Regions from separate parts of the Homo sapiens genome. Here region 1 is linked to region 2. The links come from fine-mapping of genetic effects on gene expression. A gene starts in region 2. The other region holds a variant in brackets. All regions are shown on one strand. Distances are from middle to middle. Region 1 holds the start of LINC02210-CRHR1 (LINC02210-CRHR1 readthrough). Region 2 holds the start of MAPT (microtubule associated protein tau).

Evidence for each region. PIP is the estimated chance that this variant, and not a neighbour inherited with it, causes the effect.
Region 1: its variant is the best candidate, but not a certain one, in a credible set for the expression of MAPT in testis (GTEx, PIP 0.62).

Annotation. Positions count from the first base shown.
Region 1 is chr17:45,612,580-45,621,174 of GRCh38, reverse strand. LINC02210-CRHR1 (LINC02210-CRHR1 readthrough) reads right to left here and starts at 829. Exons shown (of 15, transcript NM_001256299.3): 1 at 803-829. It overlaps LINC02210 (long intergenic non-protein coding RNA 2210), which reads right to left and starts at 846. Exons shown (of 6, transcript NR_138260.1): 1 at 803-846. RefSeq lists an enhancer at 1,713-2,692. The variant G/A (reference allele first, on the strand shown) is at 4,260.
Region 2 is chr17:45,889,329-45,897,923 of GRCh38, reverse strand. MAPT (microtubule associated protein tau) reads right to left here and starts at 3,370. Exons shown (of 13, transcript NM_001377265.1): 1 at 3,238-3,370. MAPT-AS1 (MAPT antisense RNA 1) reads left to right here and starts at 2,411. Exons shown (of 2, transcript NR_024559.1): 1 at 2,411-2,444. It overlaps MAPT-IT1 (MAPT intronic transcript 1), which reads right to left and starts at 2,141. Exons shown (of 1, transcript NR_024560.1): 1 at 1-2,141. RefSeq lists enhancers at 1-769, 1,656-2,541, 2,542-3,427.

The DNA.
Region 1 (8,595 bases), 280 kb after region 2:
AATAAAAATAAAAAATAAACACCTCTGGAGTGGATGTGTTCTTGCTATGCGTTTGTCACTGAGGCTTCGAAGACTTGGCATCACTTTCCTTACCGCTCACCGGATTTTGGGGGAGGAGCGGGGGGCGACAGTTTGACTCTTGACCCAAGTCTCAGGCGGACTTCAGAGCCCCACAGGGGCCCCCAACTCCAGAGCCAGAGGGAGCGGAGAGGCGAGAGCCCGAGATCGCACCTCCCCCCACCGCGGACCCCAGTCCCAAACCCACCCCTCACCTCCCCGCAGTGGGGCGCCTCCTTCTGCCCCATTCCCATTGTTAGGGAGGGCAGAGCGCGGGGTGGGCTCAGGGCAGGGGCGCCCGCGGCCGCTGCCCGGCTCGCTTCAGGAGGGGCGCCCCGCGGGATGCGGCTTCCCTTCCTCTCCGCGTCGGTCCGTCCCACCTCGGCTCGGCCTGGCGCCCCGAGCTCCGCTCCGCGCCCCCGGCCGCGGCCCCGGCCCGCCCCCCGGGCAGCCAGGCCCTCAGGCCACTCGGCCGGCAGCCCGCGTCCCAGGCCTACGAGTGGGCGCTGGGCGGGCGTCCCCGTGCCCCACACACGCGTCCCCTCTCCCCCAGCCCCGCCGCTTCCAGGGCCCTCGGCGGCGCCCGCTCCCCGGGCCCCGCGGCCCCCCGCCTCCCAGCCAGGCCGCTCCCTCGAGCTCGTCGGGTCAGGGACACCTCCTCTACCTCACCATCACCCTGGCCCACTCGTGCCCCCACCCCCAGGGGCACCAGTGCCAAAGGCAGCTCCCCCAGCCCCGGACCTACCTGCACGGTTCAACCAAGCCTAGAAGTGGGGGCGGGGAATCTTCCGCCCTCCTCTGGCGCTCATTGGCCCTTCAGGGGCACATCGTGAGCGCCATTGGCTGAGCAATGGTGTCCGTCAGAGCGATGGGGCGGGACAGAAGGGGAAGAGGGATGCAGGTGCCTTGGCGTCTCTGTCTCTGTGCATCTCGTTGTCTCTGTCTCTGTCTCAGCCCTTGGAAACGAGAGGCTTTTGGCTGAGAGGACTAGAAGGGGGCCTGAGGTGGGAGGAATAGGAATAGGAATCCTGACAGAGCGTCACGCCAGTTGGCAACTCTGAACCCCCTACCTAAGTCCCCTTTAGGTTCTCTTCTCCATCACCCCCAACCCCTGCCCCTCACCCCTCGAGATTCTTTCATCCAGGAAGCGACGTGATGAAAACTCCAGGCCGGAAGGCCATAGGGAGAGATGTTATATATGTATATAAAATATACACATATAAATGTTTATATATAAACTCAACCAGATATCAGTTCACTAGGGCCTGGAAAGGAAAGGGCACACATCTCACAGACAGGGAAGGACTTGAGATAGAGCCGGTAGAAGAAGGAATCAAAAATCACTCTAAGAGCTGGCAACAGTGGTTACCTCCTGGGAGAGGAACTGAGTGCCTAGGGAACCAGTGGGCGGAAGACTTACATATCTCGGCATATCATTTGTATCCATTGATTTTTGCACCACTCATCAAGATTCCAATTTAAAGAAAAGGATTTAAATGTTTAAATAAGGTCGCAAAACCAGGGGACAGACAAGATAATTGGGCAGGAAAATTGGCGCAACATGCAGATTTGGGGAGGAATCTTAGCTTTTAATATGTTCAGTTCCCGGTAACAGGGTTTTGTAAAACCCAGTGAAGGTGTCCCAGAGGCAACTGAAGTTATGGAACTTGAGAAAGGGTAGACAATCAGGACTAGAGAAGATGCAGGGTCCTCTGCCTAAAGATAGTGATCTATGACATGCTAAAGGATAAACTCCCAAAGAAGGGTAATAAGACACCCACAGTAAAAGGTAGGAGGACGAAAAAGAATGTCAGTGAGGTAAAAGAAACAATATTAAAGAGGCATGAAAATTAAGGGAGGAAGGGTCTGTGGAAAATAGAATAATAAAACTATGAGAGAGGCCGGGCACGGTGGCTCACACCTGTAATCCCAGCACTTTGGGAGGCCAAGGTGGGTGGATCACCTGAGGTCAGGAGTTCGAGACCAGCCTGCGCAGCATGGTGAAACCCGATCTCTAATAGAAATGCAAAAAAAAAATTAGCCAAGCGTGGTGGCGCGCCTCTGTAATCCCAGCTACTGGAAAGGCTGAGGTGGGAGAATTGCTTGAACCGGGAGGCGGAGGCTGCAGTGAGCCAAGATCGCGCCACTGCACTCCAGCCTGGGCGACAGAGCGAGACCCTGTTTCAAAAAAAAAAAAAAAAAAAAAAAACTGTGAGAGCCTCATAGGTCTTACCTCTTTACCTCTTTAGGCTCTGGTAACCATGGGACAATAAGAATGAAAGCCAAGGCCGGGCACGGTGGCTCACGCCTGTAATCCCAGCATTTTGGGAGGCCAAGGTGGGCGGATCACAAGGTCAGGAGATCAAGACCATCCTGGCCAACATGGTGAAACCACGGGCATGGTGGCGCATGCCTGTAATCCCAGCTACTCGGGAGGCTGAGGCAGGAGAATTGCTTGAACCAGGGAGTCAGAGGTTCCAGTGAGCCGATATCACGCCACTGCACTCCAGCCTGGATGACAGAGTGAGACTCCGACTCAAAAAAAAAAAAAAAAAACCAAAAAAAAAAAAAAAAAAAACCACCTTTATCGATTAAGAATCTTTTTTCTGAGTTTATTAATTCTATTTAAATCAACCCCAGAAAACACCTTCAACACAGCCTCTCATTTCATATCTGTAAAATGGGGCAAAAAAAATAGTTCCTACCCTTTAGAGTTGTTGTGAAGATTAAATTAGTGAATACATATGATGGATTTTTTTTCTTTTCTCTTTTTTTTGAGACACAGTCTCGCTCTGTCTCCCAGGCTGGAGTGCAGTGGCACTATCTCAGCTCACTGCAAGCTCCGCCTTCCGGGTTCACGCCATTCTCCTGTCTCAGCCTCCTGAGTAGCTGGGACTACAGGCGTCCGCCAGCATGCCCGACTAATTTTTTGTTATTTTTAGTAGATACGGGGTTTCACCGTGTTAGCCAGGATGGTCTCAATCTCCTGACCTCGTGATCCGCCCGACTTGGCCTCCCAAGTGCTGGGATTACAGGCATGAGCCATGGCGCCCGGCCTGTGTGATGGATTTTTTAAGAGCCTGACTGGCGGGGTGAGGCGGCTCATGACTGTAATCGCAGCACTTTGAGAGGCTGAGGCAGGTGAATCACTTGAAGCCAGGAGTTCGAGACCAGCCTGGGCAACAGGGCGAGACCTCGTCTCTACAAAAACACACACACAAAAATTAGCTGGGCATGATGGTGCATGCCTGTAGTCCCAGCTACTCAGGAGACTGAGGTGAGGGTCGCTTGAGCCTGGGAGGCAGAGGTTGCAGTCAGCCGAGATCTCACCACTGCATTTCAGCCTGGGTGACAGTGTAAGAACATGTCAAAAAACAAACAAACAAACAAAAACAACAACAACAAAAAAACGCACGAAAAAAACCACATAAGCTCCTTGAGGGCAGAAACTGTCCCCTAGTCTTCTATATTTTATTTCACACAATGTACAGAAGACTAAATGAATAATTGTTAGCTGGTTTTTTTTTTAAAAGGGGATAAGATCAGTTACAATGTCTTTTTCCTCAGTCAATCACATAAGTATCTAAAATGACATTCCAAAGTAAGGACAGGAGTTTAAATCCTGAACTATGGTATCTAAAGTAAACTTGAACTTTCCTTATTTTTAAAAAATTTTGGCCGGGCGCGGTGGCTCACGCCTGTAATCCCAGCACTTTGGGAGGCTGAGGCGGGCAGATCACAAGGTCAAGAGATCTAGACCATCCTTGCCAACATGGTGAAACCCCATCTCCACTAAAAATACAAAAATTAGCTGGGCGTGGTGGCACGGACCTGTAGTCCTAGCTACTCGGGAGGCTGAGGCAGGAGAACCGCTTGAACCCGGGAGGAGGAGACTGCAGTGAGCCGAGATCACGCCACTGCACTCCAGACTGGCGACAGACTGTCTCAAAAAAAAAAAAAAGAAAGAAAAAGAAAAAAGAAAAGAAAAAAATTCCATACATAGAATTCTGTGTGGCATTTTAGAGAAAATCATGGTGACTAGAGACACCAGGTGAAATTTTTTTTTTTTTTTTTTTGGTGACACAACCCCAGGAGATCCTGTGAACATGTGTCCCTTGACCAGGTGAATTTCAGGAGCTTGCACTAGTCCCAGGTTAGCTGGCACCAGGTTGGCCCTAGTTTGAGTGCCTTCCACATACCAG[G/A]TACTGTGTTGGAGAAGTACATCAAAAAGGAAAATCAAATTTCATCCTCAATAAGTAATCACAATACACTGTGATGAGAGTTAGGGTGAAGGAGGTTCAGGTTACCATGGGCTTATATTAGGAGGGCAAATTCTGTCTTCAAGTCTTTTTGCTTCAACAGTAGCGTTTAGATCTTGTGGGCTGGGCATGGTGGCTCTAGCCTGAAATCCCAGCACTTTGGGAGGGTGAAGTGGGCAGACTGCTTGAGCCCAGGAGTTGCAGATTAGCCTGGCAACATGGCGAAACCCCGTCTCTACAAAAAATACAAAAGTCAGCCAGGCATAGTGGTGCCTGCCTGTAGTTTCGGCTACTTGGGAGGCTGAGGTAGGAGGATCGCTTGACCCCAGGAGTTCAAGGCTGCAGTGAGCTACCATCGAGCCACTTCACTTCAGCCTGGGCCGCAGAATAAGACCCTGTCTGAAAAAAAAAATCTTGTGATATAATAACAGCTTGTGCACTCTTCGATAGCTCAGCTGGTAGAGCAGAGGGCTGTAGACTGCATAGATAATAATAACAGTTTGCGTTTTTGAGTCAAAGATGATACCCCAGAATCATTATCGAAAATAATGGTTGTTCCATTCACCTGTGCCTATGACTGTGAGCCACATTGTGACCAATCTGTGAGCAACATGGGTGGGAATGCAGTTTGGGGCCATGGAACTCACTTAACAGGAAGTTCCAATAGCAGTGGATTTACCATGTTGCAGCTGTAGGATCTTGGACAAATATTTAATGACCTCTGTCTCTCAGTTCTCTCAATAATAAAACATCCATCCGAGAGTTGCTGTAAAGGTTAACATAGGGGGAGTCTTGCAAATAGTAGGTGCTAAGATCCTGTCTTGAAAAAAAAAAGAAAAAAAAATATATATATATATATGAAGAGATGAGATCTTCAATTGTATAGACTGTCCCTGTACCCATTCATTTGCATTTCTTTTCCTTTACAATAATACATATCTATGATTTCCTTTTATTCCCACTGTCATCAATTTAGTTAGATTACTGGGCAGAGATCACCAGTGGGGCTAGAGTAAAATGAAAATAAATGTACATTGACTCTAGGTATTCCTAAGTAATAGCACAGTTTACTGTGTTCTCCCTCATAAATCCTGGTAGCTGAATGTTGCCTGCTTTTAGCAGTTACGTTTCTGCTCATCTCACCCTCAATGTTCATTAAGAAAATAGTTATTGAATGGCCAGGCTCACTGGCTCACGCCTGTAATAGATTACAGGCGTGAGCCACCGCACCCAGCCTTGGTTATCATATTTCTAATTTATAATAGTTTTCCTTGTTTTCTTATTGTTCATTTTTTATAGCATCCTGTTCTTATATTATGCATATATATCTTCAGGTCTCGCTGAAGAAATAAAGAGGTGTATGTGTATATGTGTGTGTGTATTATCTTTATTTTTATTTTTTGAGATGGAATCTTACTCTGTCGCCCAGGCTGTAGTGCAGTGGCGCTTTTGGGAGGCTGAGGTGGAAGGATCACTTAAGGCCAATATTTGGAGACCAGCCAGGGCAACATAACAAGACCCCCATCTCTACAAAAAAATTAAAAATTAGCTGGCCATGGTGGTGAGTGCCTGTAGTCTCAGCTACTTGGGAGGCTGAGGCAGGAGGATTGCTTGAGCCCAGGAGGTTGAGGGGGAGGTGAGCCATGATTGAGCCACTGCACTCCAGCCTAGGTGACAGAGTGAGACCCCTTCTCTAAAAAAAAAAGAGAGAGAGAGAGAAATAAAATAGTTATTGAGCACCTACTGTATGTCAGGTCCAAGACCCTAAAGATGTAAAGATGAATAAGGTGGTGACCCTGCCTTCCAGTTTCCACAGAGGTGGGGAATATGGATAAAAGCAGACAAAGCCATTGCCATGGGATAAGGGCAGAGAATAGCATGTGCAAATTATAGAAGGTGAGGGATAATATACCATTTTCCAGAAACTGATGGTTCAATGAGGCTAAAGCATGGAGTTCAAGAAAGGAAACCAGATGAGATTAACTGCAATGTGGTTCTCAAACTTAAATGTGCATAAAAACTGGCCTTGTTGGCTGGGCACAGTGACTCACACCGGTAATCCAAGCACTTTGGGAGGTCAAGGCGGGTGGATCGCTTGAGGTCAGGAGTTCGAAACTAGCCTGGCCAATGTGGTGAAACCCCATTTCTTTTTTTTTTCTTTTTCTTTCTTTTTTTTTTTTTTTTTTTTTTTTTTTTTGAGACAGAGTCTCGCTGTCGTCCAGGCTGGAGTGCAGTGGCGTGATCTCGGCTCACTGCAAGCTCCGCCTCCTGGGTTCACGCCATTCTCCTACCTCAGCCTCCCGAGTAGCTGGGACTACAGGCACCCGCTACCATGCCCGGCTAAATTTTTTGTATTTTTAGTAGAGACGGGGTTTCACCATGTTAGCCAGGATGGTCTCGATCTCCTGACCTCGTGATCCGTCCGCCTTGGCCTCCCAAAGTGCTAGGATTACAGGCGTGAGCCACCGCGCCCGGCCTGAAACCCCATTTCTACTAAAAATGCAAAAATTAGCTGGGTGTGGTGGTGCACACCTATAGTCCCAGCTGCTCAGGAGGTTGAGGCGGGAGAATCACTTCAACCTGGGAGGTGGAGATGGAGTAAGCCAAGATCAAGCCACTGCACTCCAGCCTGGGTGACACAGCGAGACTCTGTCTCCAAAAAACAAACAAACGAACAAAAAACTGGCCTTGTTTACATAGTCTCGCAAGCTCCAAGCCTAGAGATCTTGATGGAGCGGGTCAGAGTGCTGCTGCTCTTAGGGCTACACTCTGAGAACCACCGATGGAGAAGAAGGGCGGGGTCAACTTGCAGAGCTGTGCTGGGAGGTGTGTGCTGCAGCCTTGAGGAGGTGAAGAACCTTTGAGAGGTTTTAAGCCTGCAAGAGATGTGGTCACATTTACATTTTAGAAAAATCACCCTGTGTGCAATATGAAAAATGAAACAGAGAGGGCAAGACTGGAGTCAGGGAGAGCAGTTAGGAGGCTGCTGCAGAAACCCAGGCAAGAAATCATAAAGACCTGAAATAAAACAATGCCAGTGGGGAACGGGGAGGAGAGGCCAAATCCAAGGGGTATTTAGGAGCCAGAATTGAGAGGGTGTGATGAGTGTTGATGGGATACAGGACAGGATCCTGAGATGGCTTGCAGGTCTTCAGCTTTGAGTGACCCATGGAAGCGAAGGAAGATGGGAAGGAGGGTGCCTATCACACAGAGAGAATGAAGGTTTGAGAGGCAAGTGTAGCTTTTGACATTTTGCTTTTGAAATGTCTATGGGACATCAGAAATAATCTCAAAAGACCACAAGTCAGGCAGGGCGCGGTGGCTCACGCTTGTAATTCCAGCACTTTGGGAGGCCGAGGTGGGCAGATCACGAAGTCAGGAGCTCGAGACCAGCCTGGCCAACATGGTGAAACCCCGTCTCTACTAAAAATTCAAAAATTAGCTGGGCATGGTGGCGGGCACCTGTAATCCCAGCTACTTGGGAGGCTGAGGCAGGAGAATCACTTGAACCTGGGAGGCGGAGGTTGCAATGAGCTGGGATCGAGCCATCGCACTCCAGCCTGGGCAACAAGAGTAAAACTCTGCCTAAAAAAAAAAAAACCATGAGTCACTGGTTAACAGCCTGAGCAGCAGAAATCTCACAGTTCTGAGTCTGAATCCTATCTAGCCTGGCTCTGAAACTCACAATCTGGAGCTGGGGCTTGGTGCAGTGGCTCAGGCCTGTAATCCCAGCACTGTGGGAGGCTGAGGCAGGTGGATTGCTTGAAGCCAGGAGTTTGAGAGCAGCCTGGCCAACATGGTGAAACCCCATCTCTACTAAAAATACAGTTAGCCAGGCATGATGGTGTGCACCTGTAATCCCAGCTACTGGGGGGCTGAGGCACGACAATCGCTGGAGCCCAGGAGGCAGACGTTGCAGTGAGCCGAGATTGTGCCACTGCACTCCAGCCTGGGCAACACAGCAACACTGTCTAAAAAAAAAAAAAAAATGCTGGGCGCAGTGGCTTATGTCTGTAATCCCACTTTTAGAGGCTGAGGTGGGAGGATCACCTGAAGCCAGGAGCTCAAGACCAGCCTGGCCAACATGGTAAAACCCGCCATCCCCTCCCTGCCATGCCCCATCTCCCCCAACACTCCCCCACCCTGTCTCTACTAAAAATACAAAAATTAGCCGGGTGTGGTGGCACACACCTATAATCTCAGCTACATGGGAGGCTGAGGCATAAGAATTGCTTGAGCCCGGAAGGTGGAGGTTGCAGTGAGCCAAGATCGCACCACT
Region 2 (8,595 bases):
AATGACACCCCAGAATCAACCGCGGTAGGAAAGACATTTCCCTGTCTCCTGTAGGATGGGTCAGTTAAGGGGCCGAGGGGGATCAGATAGAACTCAAATTGGTCCTGCTGAGCCTGGAGCCTGAGCACGCAGAGGGGTGAGCTAGGCAGTCGCTGTCGGAGCCCCCATCATCCCTTCCAGCCTGGACCATTCTGAGACGGAGGTTTGGAGTTACAGGTGTGTGAGCGCCAGAGGGTGAGAGGGGTCACTCGCTCGGAATGTAAGAGCTCCCGCCTGCTGGGAATGGGGAGGAGTCGTCGATGGCCCCAGGATCCGTGCCCAGACATTTCCAGAGGCGCACCGGCTGGTTCAGCACCCCACCGTCATCCGCGCAAAAGCTGCATCCCTCGAGGTCCTGGAGGGAAGCCATTTCCTTAAAGCGCGCGCAGAGCCAGGATAGAGTTTCCTACGAAGGACCGTCCCCCTGAGGTTCCTCCATTAACAGCGCCCCCGGCCTTGCCCACCGCAGCGGCCCCACCAAAGCGCCAACACATTTCAAAATGGAGCGAAATCGCAGAAGCGCGGAGTGCGCTTTGTTCCCAGCATTGGGCTAAATGCGCTCATCCCCACCGGGCTCCCTTTCCTCCAAAGGCAGGAGGTGACATCTCTGCTCGCGAGATGGCAATACGTAGCCGTGGCCGCGGGCTCCCCTTTTCCGGGGCCACCCCGAGACCCTCGCTCCATCTGGAAGGGGAACCCCGCGCCCAGCTCTGTCTGGGGGCGAGGGAGGAGAGACGATGCTTGAATCGATCCCTGAGCCGCTCTGCAACCCCTCGCGGCGGGCCCAGCCATGCGAGGAGCCTCGCAGTACCCAGGCTCCAGCCCTCTACGCCACCGTCAAGGAGGGTCGGCCTGGTCCCGGGCGGGCAGCCAAGCCATTCCCCAGAAATTCAGATCAACCTGGGCGACCCGCGTGGAGGATTCAGCTCCTAGATGCTCTTCCGTCTCAGAAGTGCGCCCCCCGCACCAGTTTTCAGCGATAGAATTAACCAGAAAACCGTGCGTACCAGGTTCATCACAGGAGGGCGAGGCATGGATTCGTTGGCCAGGAGTTCCCCCTGCCGCCCCAGACTCGGTTTTGGGGGCGCGGTGAACTTGGACACGGGTGAAATTTATTTAAGATAAATAATATTAATCAGTACGGACATAATATTAATAAAAATACACCCAGGGCCGCCTATCTGCGTGTCTGCGGCCTCCAGGGGCCAATCAGAAACAGCCTCAGGCGCGGGGGTTCGGGGCTTCCTCCCGTGTCCTCCAGGAGGCCGACTGGGCGCGGCTCCCCCTACCCCAGGGTCCCCAATCTCCGCAGGGAAGGGGTGAGGCCAGCCCCAAGATCCCCTCTCCGGACACCTGTGGTTTCCATGGCAATCCCCCCTCTGCGCCCAGTCCAGTGGGCTCAGAAAGATGGGTGTGGCCGAAGCACCAGTAACCTTATGCCCCTTCCTCACATTCTCCGGCCAGGCGAAGCAACAGGGCGTAAAGCCGGAGAGGCCCCGCCAGGGCTCCCCACCCATCCCCGGATGGGTAGCCAGCGTCCCTCGCTGGGCAACCTGGTGTGGCGTGGCCCTCAGGACACTTGGGGTGTAGGGAGGGGCGAGATCCCTCTGCCGCCGCCCGCAGCGCGCACGGAGACTCGAATCCCATCCCTTCAGAAGCTTCCCGGCGCCGGCAGACTCCGAGACGAGGCTGCGCGCGGTCACGCCCGTTCCATGCGTGCCGGGGGTCGGGGGGTTGACTCGAGTTCATCGAACCCAGCAAGCCTCGAGATCCAACAATGGGCTCGGAAATGAGGAGCGAAAAAGGAAAGAGAGGCGCATGGGCGTAGGGGGGAGGTTGACTGAACACCCTCAGAATAAAAGCCAGAAACCAGGGCTGGGAGCGCAGATCACGTAACCTCTACAGACAAAGCAAAGAGCCCCCGAAGAAGGTGCTGGGCGAACGCCCCCAGTGCTCACGCCCGCAGCAGCAAAACGCCAAGATTTCAGCGCTGATTGTCCCCCTCCCTTTAATGCCAGGCCCCGCCCTGTCCTATGAAGCCCGGCCACCCGGTTTGGCATGGCACCGTAAAGACGTGACACGCCGAAAAAAGATGGCACCTCGCGTTCCGAGGGGGAAAAAAAGGGGGGCTGGGGGCGGGAGTGGGAGGAGGCACAGCCTATCCTCCCCCTTCCTCGCCCACCAGGGTCCACACCCACTGCCGCAGTGAGGGGCGAGCCCTGCGCGCCAGCCCCGCGCCTCCGGCAGGGAGCGCACACGCCGGGCGCCCTGCGCTCCGAGCGCTGAGAAAGAAATCCGCCCCGAGATGCACCTGCAGCCCCGCGCCCATCCGTGCGTGGCTGCGGCTGTGCGTGCCCGCGAACGGGGACCAGCGGCCGCCGAGTCCGTCCACATCGCCAGGCCAGGTGAACCCTGCCTTTGCGAGCGTGCACAGTGGGATCCGCGCACTGTTCTCAGGCACGGCGCTGCTCGCGTCTCTGTGCCAGGCGTGCGCAGGGGGAAGGGCAACTAAAGTGACAGCGCGTGGACCCCTCCCCATCTCCTCGATTTCTCCCAGCCCCCAAATGTCCCCTACGGGTTTCTGAAGGAGGAAAAGGGGAGGGGGCCGGCCCCCGCCTAAAATCAGGGGCAGTGAAGGCCCTGTCGGAATCACTGCTCGGGAGGTGCAGGGAGGGGCGTGCAGGGAGTCATCTTTTCTAGAACCCGATCCACGTCTTTCTTAGAGCTGATGGCGAACAGCGGCAGGGACAGCGGATTTCAGATTCGGTTTCGGGGGTCGTTATCGGACCCCTCCACACACACACACACACACACACACACACACACACACACACACGCCCATTGCGGCAAAAGGCTGCAGTCGAGAGTGAAGGGCAGCCCCCTCCCCCAAGTCACCGCCGCCGCGCCCCACCCTGCCGGCACAGCCTCCACCTGGGGTCTGCGCGAATCTGGTGGTGAAGACCCTCCAGCACACACACACGCGCGCACTCACGCGTGCGTGCATCCCTTGCTCAGGTCCCTTTCCAGGCCGCCCTGGCCCCAGCCCCCGAGCAGGGGAGGCAGGGAGGGGCCCTGCGGTGGCCCCGACCGATGCCCGGCGCACGAAGCCCCAGTCTGCGGAGAGGGAGGGCGAGGGGCGGCGGCGCAGGGGTGCACAGAGGCGGACGGCGAGGCAGATTTCGGAGCCGCGGCGCTTACCTGATAGTCGACAGAGGCGAGGACGGGAGAGGACAGCGGAGGAGGAGAAGGTGGCTGTGGTGGCGGCGGCAGAAGGTGGGCGGTGGCAGCGGCGCTGCTGTTGGTGCCGGAGCTGGTGGGTGGCGGTGACTGCGAGGGCGCGCGCCGGCGAAGAGGGCGCGTTCCTGAGGCCGGCGGGCGGCGCAGGCGCGAGCAGCGGGAACGCGAGCCTCCCCAGGGGAGGGGGCGGGCAGCGCGGCCTCCGCGGGAGCCTTCTCCTCCGGCCACTAGTGGGCGCGCGCGAGCGCCCTGCCGCTCGGCCGTCCGGCGTCTCCCGGCTCGTTCCTCTCGGCGCTGCCCTTTCGCGGTCCCCCTCCCGCTACGCCTCAGGCCGCGGCGCTGACCGCAGCGCGCACGCGCGTTCCGTGGCGCACGCGCTTTCTCCACCTCCTGTAGTTGGAGTCTTTGTGTCGTTGCGGGGGTGGGTGTCCTCCTTCGGGCCATGCGGGGTCGGGGCAAGGCCAGTGGCTCCGCCGCTGGGTCCGCTGCCCTTTACTTTCAGTCAGCCTGGGGCGGTGTCCTCTCCTACAGAAGTCCTGAGCGGCCTTCCACGTGGCCGGCCCTCGAGTCCGTCCGCCCCGACCCTTCGTAGTCCCGAAACCGCCCCCCTGGCTAAGGTCTCTTTCCCCCAGGCTGCTTCCTTTCTCCTTGCTTTTTTCCCACCTTTTTTGTTACTGACCAAGGTGAATCCTTTCCTTAACAAATCGGCTTAAAGCAAGCTAACTCAGTTACAATACAGTAGAACTGTACTTAAAAAAAAAGAAACGTGAATCTAACCGTTACGTCAGAAAAAAAAATCTTAAATTAGACGAATTTCAAACAGTGCTTAACACATCGCAGAGCATTTGCAGTTATTTGTATCACGTCTTTTGAAACACCTTTATGCTGTAAATAGAGCTTGAAGTCTGAATGTTTAAGGGCCAGCTAGAGATTGTCCCCTGGAAGACGCACCTCAGCCTGAAACTGACCAGTGGTCCTCATTCTGCTGGTCGCCCAGGCCCCAGGCTTCGGCCTTAGCTTGGATTTTTCATTTCCCCAACATCAAGTTTAAGCCCAAGCAGTGGGATGATTTCTATGTAGGGGGGTTTAGGGCAGCCATCTCCTCCTAGGGAGATGGGAAGTTGTCTTGAAGCTCCAATTTGCATAGCTCTTATATTCTTTTTAAAAAATCAACATATGTTATAGATTAATAGAAAAAGCAAGTAAAATGCTTTATTCACACAGTTTCTGGAACTGACCTTTTTCTCCTTTTTTTTTTTAAATGCATATTAACTTTATTTTTAAACAGAGGGGCATATACCCAAAGAAGTAGGAGTGAGAACCACCATGGGGGCTTGCTCAAAGCAATCTGCCCTAGCCTTCTGACTACAGAATGTCTCATGAGCCAATGGCCTGGAGATGGAGCTGCCCCTTGATGGTGTACACCTTAGAAAAGTCAGTGGAATTGACCTTTTTTTGGAGACAAGGTCTTGCTCAGGCTGGAGTGCAGTGGCACAATCGTAGCTCACGGCAAGCTTGAACTCCTGGGGCTCAAGCAATCTTCCCACCTCAGCCTTCTGAGTTGCTGGGACTACAGGTGGGCACCACCACACCTGGCTAACTTTTTTTTTTTTTTTTTTTTAGAGAGGAGGTCTTGCAGTGTTGCCCAGGCTGCTTTCTAACTCCCACCTCAGCCTCCCAAAGCGTTGGGATTACAGGCATGAGCCACTGCACTCAGCCTGGAATTGACTTTTTGTTGTTGTTGTTCTAACTGCCACCATCCTAGTTCAAGACCTCTATCTTGGTTCTGGACATGTAGGGACCTTAGTGATCTCCTTGCTCTCCAGTTTCTCCCTATATCAGCCCACCCTGCAACCCCTAGTTAGATCAGTATTCAGAAGTGATCATTTTATTTATTTATTTTTGGTTTTTTGTGTGTGTTTGTTTTGTTTTTTTGAGATGGAGTCTCGCTCTGTTGCCCAGGCTGGAGTGCAGTGGCACGATCTCGGCTCACTGCAACCTGTTTCCCGGGTTCAAGCGATTTTCCTGTCTCAGCCTCCCAGCTACTGGGATTACAGGCATATGCCACCACTCCCGGCTAATTTTTGTATTTTTAGTAGGACGGGATTTCACCATGTTGGCCAGGCTGGTCTCGATCTCCTGACCTCAGGTGACCCAAGCTCCTCAGCCTCCCAAAGTGCTGGGATTACAGGTGTGAGCCACCACACCTGGCCCAGATCATTTTAATTATGTCACTCTCTTGCTCAAAAATATGTAAAAGCTTCTAACTGCCTCCTAAATTAAGTTCAACCCCTTAGTTTAGCTTTCAAGTGTCCCCCCAATGCCCCAACCCCCCATCATCTGAGCCCTTGTCCTCCCATTTTCTTTCCCACCTACTCTGTAGCCAGCTGAAGTGGCTTGACTAGAACTCTTTTTCCACCTCTGTAATTCTGAGGTTTTCCTTTGCCTACAAAGGTCCTTGTTCTTTCTTCACCCACCAGTAGTCTACCTAACCTTCAAACTCTAGCTCAAATTTTACCAAAGCCTTCCCTAATCACCCCAACTGGAAGGGACATTTCCAGTCTCTAGAAGGAGTTCAGCAAAATTACTCTTCTTCTTTCTGAAAGTGGGAAGGGGGTGCAGTCAATATCCGTCTTGCAGCATTGAAATGTGGTTATTGTCCCCAATAGTGTCCCCTTTTTTTGGTGTGGGGATTATACATACTTGTCCATTACCATTTACATGATGTAGACATTCCAAATAGGCGCTTCAAGAGCATTGCAAGGTTCTACCACTTTTACTCTTCCTTTCCGCCACCAGAATGGCGTGGCTCCAGAGAGCTGTTCCTTCAGCTTAGATCTCAGGAAGGAAAAACTCGAGGAAGTACATGTCACATGAGCAAGAAATAAACATTTGGGGCTGGGCGCAGTGGCTCATGCCTGTAATCCCAGCACTTTGGGAGGCTGAGGTGGGTGGATCGCTTGAGGTCAGGAGTTCAAGGCCAGCCTGAGCAACATGGTGAAATCCCATCTCTACTAAAATCACAAAAATTAGCCAGATGTGGTGGCGCGTGCCTGTGTTCCCAGCTACTCGAGAGACTGAGGCAGGAGAATCGCTTGAACCCAGGAGGCAGAGGCTGCAGTGAGCCGAGATTGCACCATTGCACTCCAGCCTGTTACAGAGCAAGACTTGGTGTCAAAAAAAAAAAAGAAATAAGCATTTGTTGTGCAAGCCACCGAGATTTGAGGAGTTGTTACCACAGCGTCCTGTATCCTGATTGATACAGGAATTAAATGAGGTGTGTGTGTGTGTGTGTATAAAGTTTCTTACACAACATCTGACAAATAGTCATTAAACTATCATACTATTATAAATACTATACTATTATACTATTATAAATACTAGTTATTTCATTATCATCTTTGTAATAATGCTTTTGCTACACATTATTTTATTTCTATACGTAAAATAAACTGTAGCAGTCAAATCAACACTCGTCTACATTCAAATTTCACATTTTTCCCCCTCTAAGATAACAGTATAATTGAGAACTGACAGGGACCTAATGACAGTATGGTCCCCTCACACTGAATGGTCACATTTGCCTAAATTGAAATAACGTATGCTAGAAACAATCTTAAGCAGATCTGTCATTTTAACTATATGTGATGTAGAGTTGAATGTTCATTCCAGATAATTTAGTCAATGTAGGTAACTAATGGCTCACACTAATTCAGGCCAAGAAAATGCATTCCCTCTCTTTCTTCCTGTCCCTTTCTCTTGCTGAAAGAGAAATCTCATGGCCGCATATGTTATACAATCATGCCCACTTATGTAGGATCACAGAAGGCAGAATAGCAGAGAAGAAAGAAAACTGGAGAGTTGGGTCCTGATCCTAGCCATCTTGTATGACCTTAGACAAATTCATTACCTTCTCTGGGTTTGCAATTCCTTTATTTAATGGTGTTCCAGATGCGGTTAGGACTGAGATCAATGTATCTATAGAATTTGGAGGCTCTGCCACTAAATCTATTCACAAAGCAAGCTAAACTGTTGTAATAAATAGACCCCAAAACACAATGGTTCAAACCAACTCTTCGAGCAGTCTTGGGTGAGTGATCCAGGTTGGTAGCCAGCCTTCTCCGTGGAAGGTTTGGGACTCAAGCTCCTTCCATTTGCAGCCTACACCACCCCTGAGGGACTTGTTGTTTGCTTGCTTGAGGCAGGGTCATCATTTAGAGTCTCCAGTTGGGAGGAAGAGAAGGAGCTTATGGAGGAAACACACTGGCTGTCTTAGAGGCTGGAAGTGGCATCTGATCATGTTCCACTGTTAGAACTTAGTCACATGGCCATCCCTAAGCGCAAGGTATACCAATGTATGTAGGAGAGTTGTGGGCCCAGGAAGAAGAGGAGAAAGGATTTGGGTGGAACCTAGGCTGTGCCATATATACTTTTTATGTGGGGGTGGGGGGATGTGGTAAAAAGAACCTGGGAAAAGAACCTGAACTTGTCTATCATGAGATTCAGACATATGTGAATAGGCTATGATGTGGGAGGTGGGGAGAGAGGTAGAGAACTAGCAGAGAAGGAGAAAAACCAGATTTTCAATTAAATGCATGAGAGAGAAGTCATCATTGGATACTTCTGAATCAGAGAGTATTTAACCTTTTTTATATCGTGGCACCCTATGGCAATATGATAAAAGCCCTGTCTCAGAAGAATATTTTCAAATGCATAAAATAAGATCTATAAGATTATAAAGGAAACTCTTATGTACAGTTATCAAAATATTTAAATGTCTGTGATATCGTATGTGATGGACATGGAGATGGAGGTGTGCCGCCCAGATTCCCCTATAGGGAAGGACTTGTTCCAGCCACTGGGAGTGCTGTTGGCAGACAGGCTTCAGCCCTCTGTCCCTTCAGGGATTGTCTCGGCTGCAAGAGTCACCTTGTTGCAGGGAGACCACGTTGAGTGACTGACAGAGGTGGGGGTATAAAGACCCAGTCATGTTGGCCCCACACTGGGAAAGTCTGATGGCCCTATTTAACTCCAGAGCTCCCCATGCCAGCCAGGCAGTTGTTGGGTTGAATCACAACTCAACTTCCTCCTCTGCTCAGTCCTTCCTTCCCCACTGCCTCTGGTATTAATTGTGCATTCTAATAAACATTCTGGGCTGGGTGTGGTGGCTCACGCCTGTAATCCCAGCACTTTGGGAGGCAGAGGTAGGTGGATCACTGGAGGTCAGGAGTTTGGGAGCAGCCTAGCCAACATGGTAAAACCCCATTTCTACTAAAAACACAAAAATTAGCTGGGTGTGGTGGCGCACACTTGTAGTCC